2 separate regions of the Homo sapiens genome follow, and region 2 is linked to region 1. Evidence: fine-mapped expression QTL. A gene starts in region 1. The other region holds a variant in brackets. All regions are shown on one strand. Distances are between the middles of the regions.

Region 1 (4,393 bases):
TGGCTAAGTACTGGGGTGTTAGAAGAGAAGGAATAGTTTAAAAATTCCTTCAAGGCCACTGGGTGGTGACTCTTCCACTCGTGTTCATCTGTCATCCCTCACTTTCTAGCTTCTTCCTCCCTCCTTCTTTAGATTCCCAAACACTTCATTTTTTCCATCTAAATTTCAGATGGACTTATTTCCCACCTTTTAAATCCAGGGAACTCTTTGGCTCACTGTAGCACTTGATTTTAAGCAAATGGGAGCATTAGGTTTTTGAGGTTTAAGAGCCCATCTGTAAAGATATTTCTACTTTGGATTACAAAGTCATGTTTTAGAAATTCTAGAATCTTATAGCCTTACATTAAAGAAGCTAGACACACTAGAGGAAGTCTTAACCAAGCAAATGTCAACAGCCCCAGGAAAGGACAGAGACAGATACCGCCTTTGACTTTAAAAGGAAATGTAGCACTTCCCTTCCAAAATGCAAGGGGCAAAAAAGATCACGATTTCAAAATAATGTTCTATCTTCCTACCCTGGGGCTCTCCCTTATCAGTACTGAGCTGTCCATCTTCCTGACATCTAGTGAGTTGGCCTAGTTTCTGAAGCCATTTTTAGAACACGTTCATTTTAATAATCAAGGAGTCAGGAGTCTCGCACAGTTTCAAGTGTTTCATCAGTTTCATCAGTTACTCAGCCCTTCTCTCCACGTCACTCAGAGGAGGGGCCTTGTGGTCACTTTGGCAGTTTGACCAGCAAGAAGGAGGCTTACTGTCACCCCTGACTCTGTCTAAGGTCCAACCATACGCTCAAGGAAAGGCCAGCTGTGAGCCTAGAGGAGTTGTCTTCAGTGATCCCAGTGCCTTTATAGAGGCCCCCCTCTGCTCCCCATGACACAAGAAGTTGCCCTTGTTATGTCCTCCCTCCCGCCATCCCCTGCACATTGACATATTCCTGTCATATCAGGTTTCTACCTTTTCTGAATTAAAGGTGAGCACAAATGGTCAGACAAGAATATTTGCACTTAGCCTATTACATAAACTCATGGAGGGGGAGGATTGAACATTCCCCTGGCCCTCGGTTAAGTCACTGCATTTTTACAAAGACCTGAAGACAATACCAACAGAATGAATAAGGAGCAGTTCATGTATTAGATGCCCCAGACAAGTAAAGAAGATATCATTCCAGGGGGGCTGTTACAAAAAAACAAGTTTTGTCTATTACGAAGGGCTGGACCCTGCCTCAATTTCTTTAAAAGGGCTCATGGCTTTCTGCCAGAACCACCCCACTCCACCGCCATCTCAACTCAGCCCTAATTTTTTAACTATAAACTGCAATTTAAAATAAAGCAGCTTTTTCATTCTCCATGGATTTCCATCATTTCCTTCCCTCTAACGCCTTGAGGCTTAGCCAAAGTGGGGTTTTGCAGCCTATCGGCACCCAAGCAGTAGAAGAGACATCAGGATGTGTAAAGTGCTTTGGGATCCATCCCAGAGACTAGGACCCACAGATGCCTCCTGCCTCCCTCTGCCCACAGGTGCCGCTGCTCGGGGTAGGGGTCATGGATGGGAATCCAACATGCTTTTCCTGGCAGGACCTGTCAGGCAGGGGCTAAGGGTAAGAATGCAACCCCATTCTCAACCGCCCTAAAAAACTGAGTGAAGTGGGGACGGGGCCCCGCTGAGAGAGGTGAAAAGGGGTGAGGAGGAGCCGAGGGTCCTCGGCTCAGCAAGAGGCGAAACCGCCACGCGCTGGACGCTGGACGACGACAACCGCTAGAGCTATGCCTCGGGCGAGGTCCCCTCCCGGGTCCCACCCTTCCTGGACCTGACCCCCTGGATCACCTTGATCTTCTCGCCCTCGATTTCCACGGTCTTCTCCCTGAAGTCCACGCCGATGGTGGCTTCAGTCTTGTCTGGGAAGGTACCCCCGCAGAAGCGGAAGGTCAGGCAGGTCTTGCCCACGTTGGAGTCCCCAATCACGATTATTTTGAAGATGCGAATCTGCACGTACTGGTCCAGCGACGAGTCGAGCTCCAGGGACGCCAGGCCAGCGGCCGAGGCGGGCTGCAGGCTCCCATGGCCCAGGATGGGCTGCGCCATCTCCCCCGGACCGAACCGGGGCCCCAACCCCCCTTGAGGGCTCCACACAAAGAGAACGTCCACGTTCGTGCGCTCGAGGCGAGCGAGCTCTGTGCGTGTGTGTGTGCGCGCGTGTGTGTGTGTCCGCCCGTGTGTGCGTGCGCCGGCACCGTGTGCGCGCGCGCGCGTGAAGGGGGTGCCTCTCACTCCGGGCCCCCCTCCTCCTCCTCCAGCGCACCCTCCTTGCAGCTCGGAGGCACCAACACAAAAGCCAGGGAGAGGAGGAGAGAGGGAGGAGAGTGGACGAGCCGCGAGCCTTCTGCCTGTGTGCGCCCTCGGACCGGATGCTCTGGCGAAGGACCCTACCGCGCTGCTCCAGCCGCCGCCGCGCCTCGGCCCACACCCTCCCCTGCCTGCATTCCCGGGACGGACCCGAGGGAAGAAGCCTCAGGAGGAAAGAGACGGGGTGGGGACAGCGGCACACGCCACCCCGGGATAGACTTCTTTCTCCTTGCCCCCGTTTATGTTATAGGTTTCGGGCTCCCCACCCCCACTGGCTCGAGCGCACGGGGTCAGCGGGCAGGGAGCACAGCTGGGGAGGACAAAGAGCTGCACCTTAAGACATCACTGGATCACTTCGGCCTCCCTGGAGCAACGCAACTCTGCGGGGATGGGGTGGGGGCGGAGGCACCTCTTTCACCTCGGGAGCAGCGGGCAGCTGAGCCGCGCCTTCCCGGTCCCCGCTACCCCGTCCCCTCTACCCCCACCCTCTACCCGACCCGCGCCTTGGGATAAAGGGATGCTCTGTCTTAATGAGTGAGCAGGTGCACTCGCGGGCCCCAGGCAGCCTGGGAGGCCGCTGCCAAGACACGCAGTGGGTTGTCCGGGGCCTGTACAGCTGAGAGGAGGGAGCCAGCGGGCACGCGTGTGCGTGTGTAGGGGGTGTAACTGTTTCTGTTACAGACTTGCCAGATGTAGGGGGGCGCGTACCAGGCGCCAACATCCCCTTATCACACCACGCGCACCCATCCTCTGAATGTTCAGGAGAGCGGCTCCTATTGGCTGCCGCAGTCGGTTGTGTTTGGCTGGCCAATGGGGAAGGCCCGCCGCGGGAGAGGGCCACACAGAGGCTAGGAGAAGGGGGGGAAGCTAGTGGTGGCAGTTCCAGCAAAAGGGGACTTTGTTTACGGGGCTAGCCATTACTGGCCCAGGTGGAGGATCTTGGGACAATGGCATAAGCTCCACAGTGCCTTCCATTCCCAAGCCCTCCATATAACCATAAGTCCCTCCAGAACGCTGGAGTTTCAGAGGGAGTTGGGAATCCCTAGGAGGGTTCACCTCCCCCTGCAGCTGAATGTAGAACAAAGTGGTTGGGTCTAATTTGCCAGAAGCCTAGATTATGCTTGGAAGATGATAAATGAACACAACCTCCTTACAGTATTAGGGGGCTGCTGCCCAAAGCTTACTAATCATCACACACATCTTGGTCAAGACCAGTATTCCTTCTCCCTAAAGTCATTCGCGGGTTCAGAATTTGTTTGAAATCGACTTTACTGGGGGTACAATTTACATACGATAAAGTGCACCCATTTGTTTCTTTTAAGACTTTACCTCTCCCCCTACATATTTCATAAGCTAAGGTAACACTGACACATGTCACTAGCACTGACTCGTGAGTTATTGCTAATGCCATCAAGGTCAGGGATTCAAACAGCACAGTTGAGCTGCCATCTTATTTGGGAGGTTGAGCTGCAGGAAGAGACAAACATGACCAAATCCATTTCTGCTGAGAGAAAAACAATTCAGTGCATCAGTGATATACCTGAAAGCAAATTGGAATGTGACTACTCAAGGACGTCCAAGTTACTCAGAATGGCATCTTCCAGTTAATAAGTTTATTAGCTGAGCTAGCAGATATATTTACAGCTAACCCTTTTATCATATATGTGGGTCGCCCATTTCTAAAACCCTACATTATACTACTCAGCATTAAAACTACCCAGATAAGGATTTCCTCTTAGTTGGCTAATCCAAAATCATCCTTATGAATACCAATTTTCATTGTATTATGTATCAATCATCATTGTACAGTATTTTTGGTTTTGATTAGTCTGATGCCTAGTTTGCTGGATCGTTCCCCTCTGTATTGGAAGTTAATGCCCCTGATGATCTTTATCTACAGAATAGCTTTAAGGTGGAGAGGGGTAACTATTAATTAGGTACATCCTGTACACAAAGTAGAAAGGGGCTTTGCCCTTTGCCAATTCACAGCTAGAATTAATGCTAACTTCCTGAGAGATATTAAAAAAACATATGTACATAATAAGATTAT
Region 2 (4,393 bases), 25 kb after region 1:
GGCTAATTTTGTATGTTTAGTAGAGACAGGGTTTCACCATGTTGGCCAGGCTGGTCTCAAACCCCTGACCTCAGGTGATCCGCCTGCTTCGGCCTCCCAAAGTGCTGGGATTACAGGTGGGAGCCACCACGCCCAGCCGAAAGCTGTTTTTTAAATGAGGAAATTCTTCTAGTCTGTTTTGTTCCCCTTTTGAGTCTTTGCAGTTTCGAGTTGCTAAAGGTATATTTGCTTTCCTAAAGCACATACCCTAGCCATCACTTCCATTTCACATGATTCACTTCAATTTTCAGAGAGGACTGTTTTAATCCTTTAATAAGCCCCACAACTCTGGGTGGGCAATTTGTTCTGCTTTTTTCAAAAGCACCCCCTTATTCTTGAACATTGTATGATAATCCCCAATTGACCTCCTGGATTTTCTCCCTTTGTTGCTAACGGAAGGTGAAACTGAGCCTGATATTTTCCTGGTGATCACTAGGAAATTGATGGGAAGGGCAAAAGCCTACTGATGTATACTTTCTAAATGTTTTAGAAGTAACTAAATATTTAAGCTATGTCCTAGTACCAGTTCAGACCTGATGAATGAATGACATTGGTGAAATCATTCTCCTATTTTTCACTTATGAAATGAAAGGGATACTTGCTTTTCCTCTCCCATCAGGATGCTGTGAAGATTGTTAAGATTAGCGTAGGTCATATGTTTTGCTAGCTTTATGTGGAGGATTGAGACAAGTGCAAGGTGATTTTTTTTTAACAGTGGCAAAGAATCATCTGAGACTTCAAGAAGATTCATCCAGTCTGTTCTGTTGCTTTCAGCTTCAGAAGGAGAGGAAGTTCCTCAAGACAAGGCGCCAAGTCATGTTCCTTTCCTGCTAATTGGTGGAGGCACAGCTGCTTTTGCTGCAGCCAGATCCATCCGGGCTCGGGATCCTGGGGCCAGGGTAAGGTGCATGTTTTTTTGCTTGGCACAGAGGGTACAGTCTGCAAGCATTTAGCTAATGTGAATGCTTTGACATTTGCCCCTTAAATGACTTGGCTCTGATAAGCGTCATGATTTTTATGTCTGAAGGTACTGATTGTATCTGAAGATCCTGAGCTGCCGTACATGCGACCTCCTCTTTCAAAAGAACTGTGGTTTTCAGATGACCCAAATGTCACAAAGACACTGCGATTCAAACAGTGGAATGGAAAAGAGAGAAGGTGTGTTTGCTTATGTAAAATGAGCCTATCAACTTCAGCTAAGCACAGAGAATAGGTTAGGATTTTGCCACTGACTGTGTACAGTAATAGGAGGGATGGCTTGGCTGTCCACTAGAGTCTACTGTGGTCCACACTTGGTACAGCTTAGAGATAACAGTCTACAAAGGGCAAGAGTCCTGGATTCTGTTACCAGATCTACCAACAGTTGATGGTGTAATGTTGGCCTCTGAAATACTAATGCTCCTATTTCTGGAACCTTTATGTTAAGCTTCTTTAGGTGAAGATCAACTTGGCCTGTATTGTCACTTCTTTTTTTATTTTTATTTTTTGAGATGGAGTCTTGCTGCTCTGTCACCAGGCTGGAGTGCAGTGGCGCAATCTCAGCTCACTGCAACCTCCACCTCCCGGGTTCAAGCAATTCCCCTGCCTCAGCTTCTCAAGTAGCTGGGATTACAAGCACGTACCACCACACCCGGCTAATTTTTTGTATTTTATAGTAGAGATGGGGTTTTATCACATTGGCCAAGATGGTCTCGATCTCCTGACCTCATGATCCGCCTTCCTCGGCCTCCCAAATTGCTGGGATTACAGGCGTGAGCCACTGCCCCCAGCCATCACTTCTTTATACTTGCCTAGACATGTCCTACAAGAGCAGAAGAAAAGAAACTTTTTAACGGCACTCTCTTTGACAGCCTAGCAGGCATTTAGAATTTCAGGAGTAGAGTAGGAAGGCTGTAAGGAAGAGCCTGTGTTAGAATTTTTGCACGACAGACTTGGAGATACAGGTCCAGAAGCTTTTTCCTTTTGATGGACAACTTAGATCTCAATTCTAGTACCATGTTCTTTGGGTTCCAATTTTTTTTCTCATTAGTGACCCCTTTGATACCTGACCAAATTTTACAAACTTACCCTTTTCCCTCACCCCCACTAGTTCCATTTTCAAACAGGATGTATACTTTCAATTAAGTTAGTGGCTAACTTTATATGTATACATATGCATACACACACACACACACACACACACACACACACACACACA[CAT/T]ATTTTGAGAGACAGGGTCTGGCTCTGTCACCCATGCTGGAGTGCAGTGGCCGAATCATAGCTCACTGCAGCCTCAAACTCCTGGGCTCAAGTGATCCTCCCACCTCAGCCTCCCGAGTAGCTAGGACTACAGGTGCGTACCACCACGTGCCTTTTATTAATTAAAAAAATTTTTTTCTAGAGACGAGATGTTGCTATGTTGCCCAATCTGGTCTCAAACTCCTGGCCTCAAGTGATCCTCCCAACTTGGGCTCCCAAAGCACTGGGGTTATAGACCTGAGCCACTGCACTCAGCCAATATTAATATATTAACTAATTAATATTAATATATCATAGTTGATAACTGCTTGAGGCAGAGTCTTCTCAGGAGCTATAATTAGTTGTTCCATTGAAGAGCACCATTCTGGACAACCCATTTGGGTGGATATGTGAATACCAGCTCTTTGGGTGCTCCACTTGTTCTTACTTTGAAATGAACCTAAATCTAGAGCAGGATCCTCAGCCTCAGCACTATTGACATTTGGAGCAGGATAACGCTTTGCTGGGGGTGGGGAGCTGTCCAGTGCATCATAGGATGTTTAGCAGCATCCCTGGCCATTACCCACTGGATATGAGTAGCATCCCTACCCAAGTTATTACAACCCAGATTGTCTCTGGACACTGGCAAACATCCCCTGGGAGCAAAATTGCCCCAAGTTGAGAACCACTGATCTGGATACCTGTATGTAAGCAAGTCATGACCATGATTTAATAGACTTGGAGACTTACTTTGGAAAACGTCCCTTAAAGTTTCTGATAATGGAAACAGTTTTATTAAAGCTACGGGGGAAGCTGATAACAGTTCCACATGCTTATAATATTCTCCCTCTCTTCTCCATACAGCATATATTTCCAGCCACCTTCTTTCTATGTCTCTGCTCAGGACCTGCCTCATATTGAGAATGGTGGTGTGGCTGTCCTCACTGGGAAGAAGGTGAGCTAGTAGACCGCTTCTTTTGTCAGGCTCTACGTACTTGCCCACCAGCCAGTATGGTGATGTGTGTTTCCATTACCATTTATGTCTGTCCTGCCATTGTAGTTCATCAAAGAAGGATCGAGCTGCTTTAGGTTTAATAATGCTGAGTGTGTCTTTCTGGGGAAAGCACTAGTATCAAAGCCTAGGTTAGCATGCTGACTCAACTTGACCCTAAAAGCTGTTATCTCTCCTATTTGCTCTTCTGCCCTTCCTCATCCTTCCTGTTTTCCCACACTAACTTCTCTCTGGGATTATCGATGAGAAAAGATTGACAAATATGTATTACTCATAGTAAAATAATTTGGGCATAACTCAGCACGGAATATATTGTTAGACTTTAAAAGGTGAGTGTCTGAGTAATAAGGTCAGTTATTAGCAGGTATTTGTGGAGTCCCAGGATGGTTTTGTTATATTTTATTGTTGTTAATGGCAGGTACTAGAGTGTGTGTGTAAACTAATGGCAGTGTTCCAATAGGGACGCATTCTCTGAAGGAGCAAAGCCCAGAGTAGATGAGATACACAGCATAAGTGGAAGGATTGTCCTTCGTTAGGAACATACTCACTTCTCCTGTAAGGGGACATTAGACAGAGAAGATGGATATAGGTTTGTTGATAAGCCGGTAATGAGACATTTAGTGTCCCCTATGTGTAAACAACATTCAGGCCCTGCCCTCTAGGGGCTAACTGTATTAGGCAGAAACATAAATACATAATCATAACACATAGGTGTGTAGTAAGAGAGATCTGCGCAGTATGTTGTGGGAAATACTGGGAAGGGTGCCCAGTAGAGTGATGACATCAGGAAAGGCTTTCTGGAGGAGAAGGTCTTACAGAATGGGCAATCTTATGGAATGAAGAGGCATTCACCAGACTAGAGAAGACTGAAGAGCATCCAAGTAAAAAAGAACAGCATAAGCAAAAGCACAAGGGCACAAAAAAGCATGTTTGGTGCCAGGAAATAGAAGCAGCTCGATACTGATAGAGCAGTTAGGTACAAGTTAGGAAGTGGCAAGAGATGAACCTGAGAAGTTATGCAAGGGGCCTGATTGTGGAGGGCTTTGCGTGAAAGAGCTTTTTCTGCACTGGGGAGCTGTTGCATTTTAGGCAATTGAATTTTAAATAATCACCATTGGCCGTGAG

Which allele goes with the higher level. Alleles are on the strand shown, and positions count from the first base shown. SD is a standard deviation of normalised expression in the study named.
As copies of CAT replace T in region 2, the expression in monocytes after LPS of the gene that starts at base 2,183 in region 1 goes down (moderate effect, 0.55 SD a copy in Fairfax 2014).

Evidence for each region. PIP is the estimated chance that this variant, and not a neighbour inherited with it, causes the effect.
Region 2: its variant is the best candidate, but not a certain one, in a credible set for the expression of RAB33A in monocytes after LPS (Fairfax 2014, PIP 0.68).

Annotation. Positions count from the first base shown.
Region 1 is chrX:130,169,752-130,174,144 of GRCh38, reverse strand. RAB33A (RAB33A, member RAS oncogene family) reads right to left here and starts at 2,183. Exons shown (of 2, transcript NM_004794.3): 1 at 1,825-2,183. The coding sequence starts at 2,082. RefSeq lists enhancers at 1,646-2,600, 3,410-3,459 and silencers at 2,720-2,799, 2,970-3,029.
Region 2 is chrX:130,144,297-130,148,689 of GRCh38, reverse strand. It overlaps AIFM1 (apoptosis inducing factor mitochondria associated 1), which reads left to right. Exons shown (of 16, transcript NM_004208.4): 4 at 814-938; 5 at 1,067-1,197; 6 at 3,121-3,211. It also overlaps a transcript of RAB33A not described here. Among named protein-coding and RNA genes, the nearest start is that of AIFM1, 19 kb to the left of the region's middle. RefSeq lists an enhancer at 1,203-2,402. The variant CAT/T (reference allele first, on the strand shown) is at 2,237.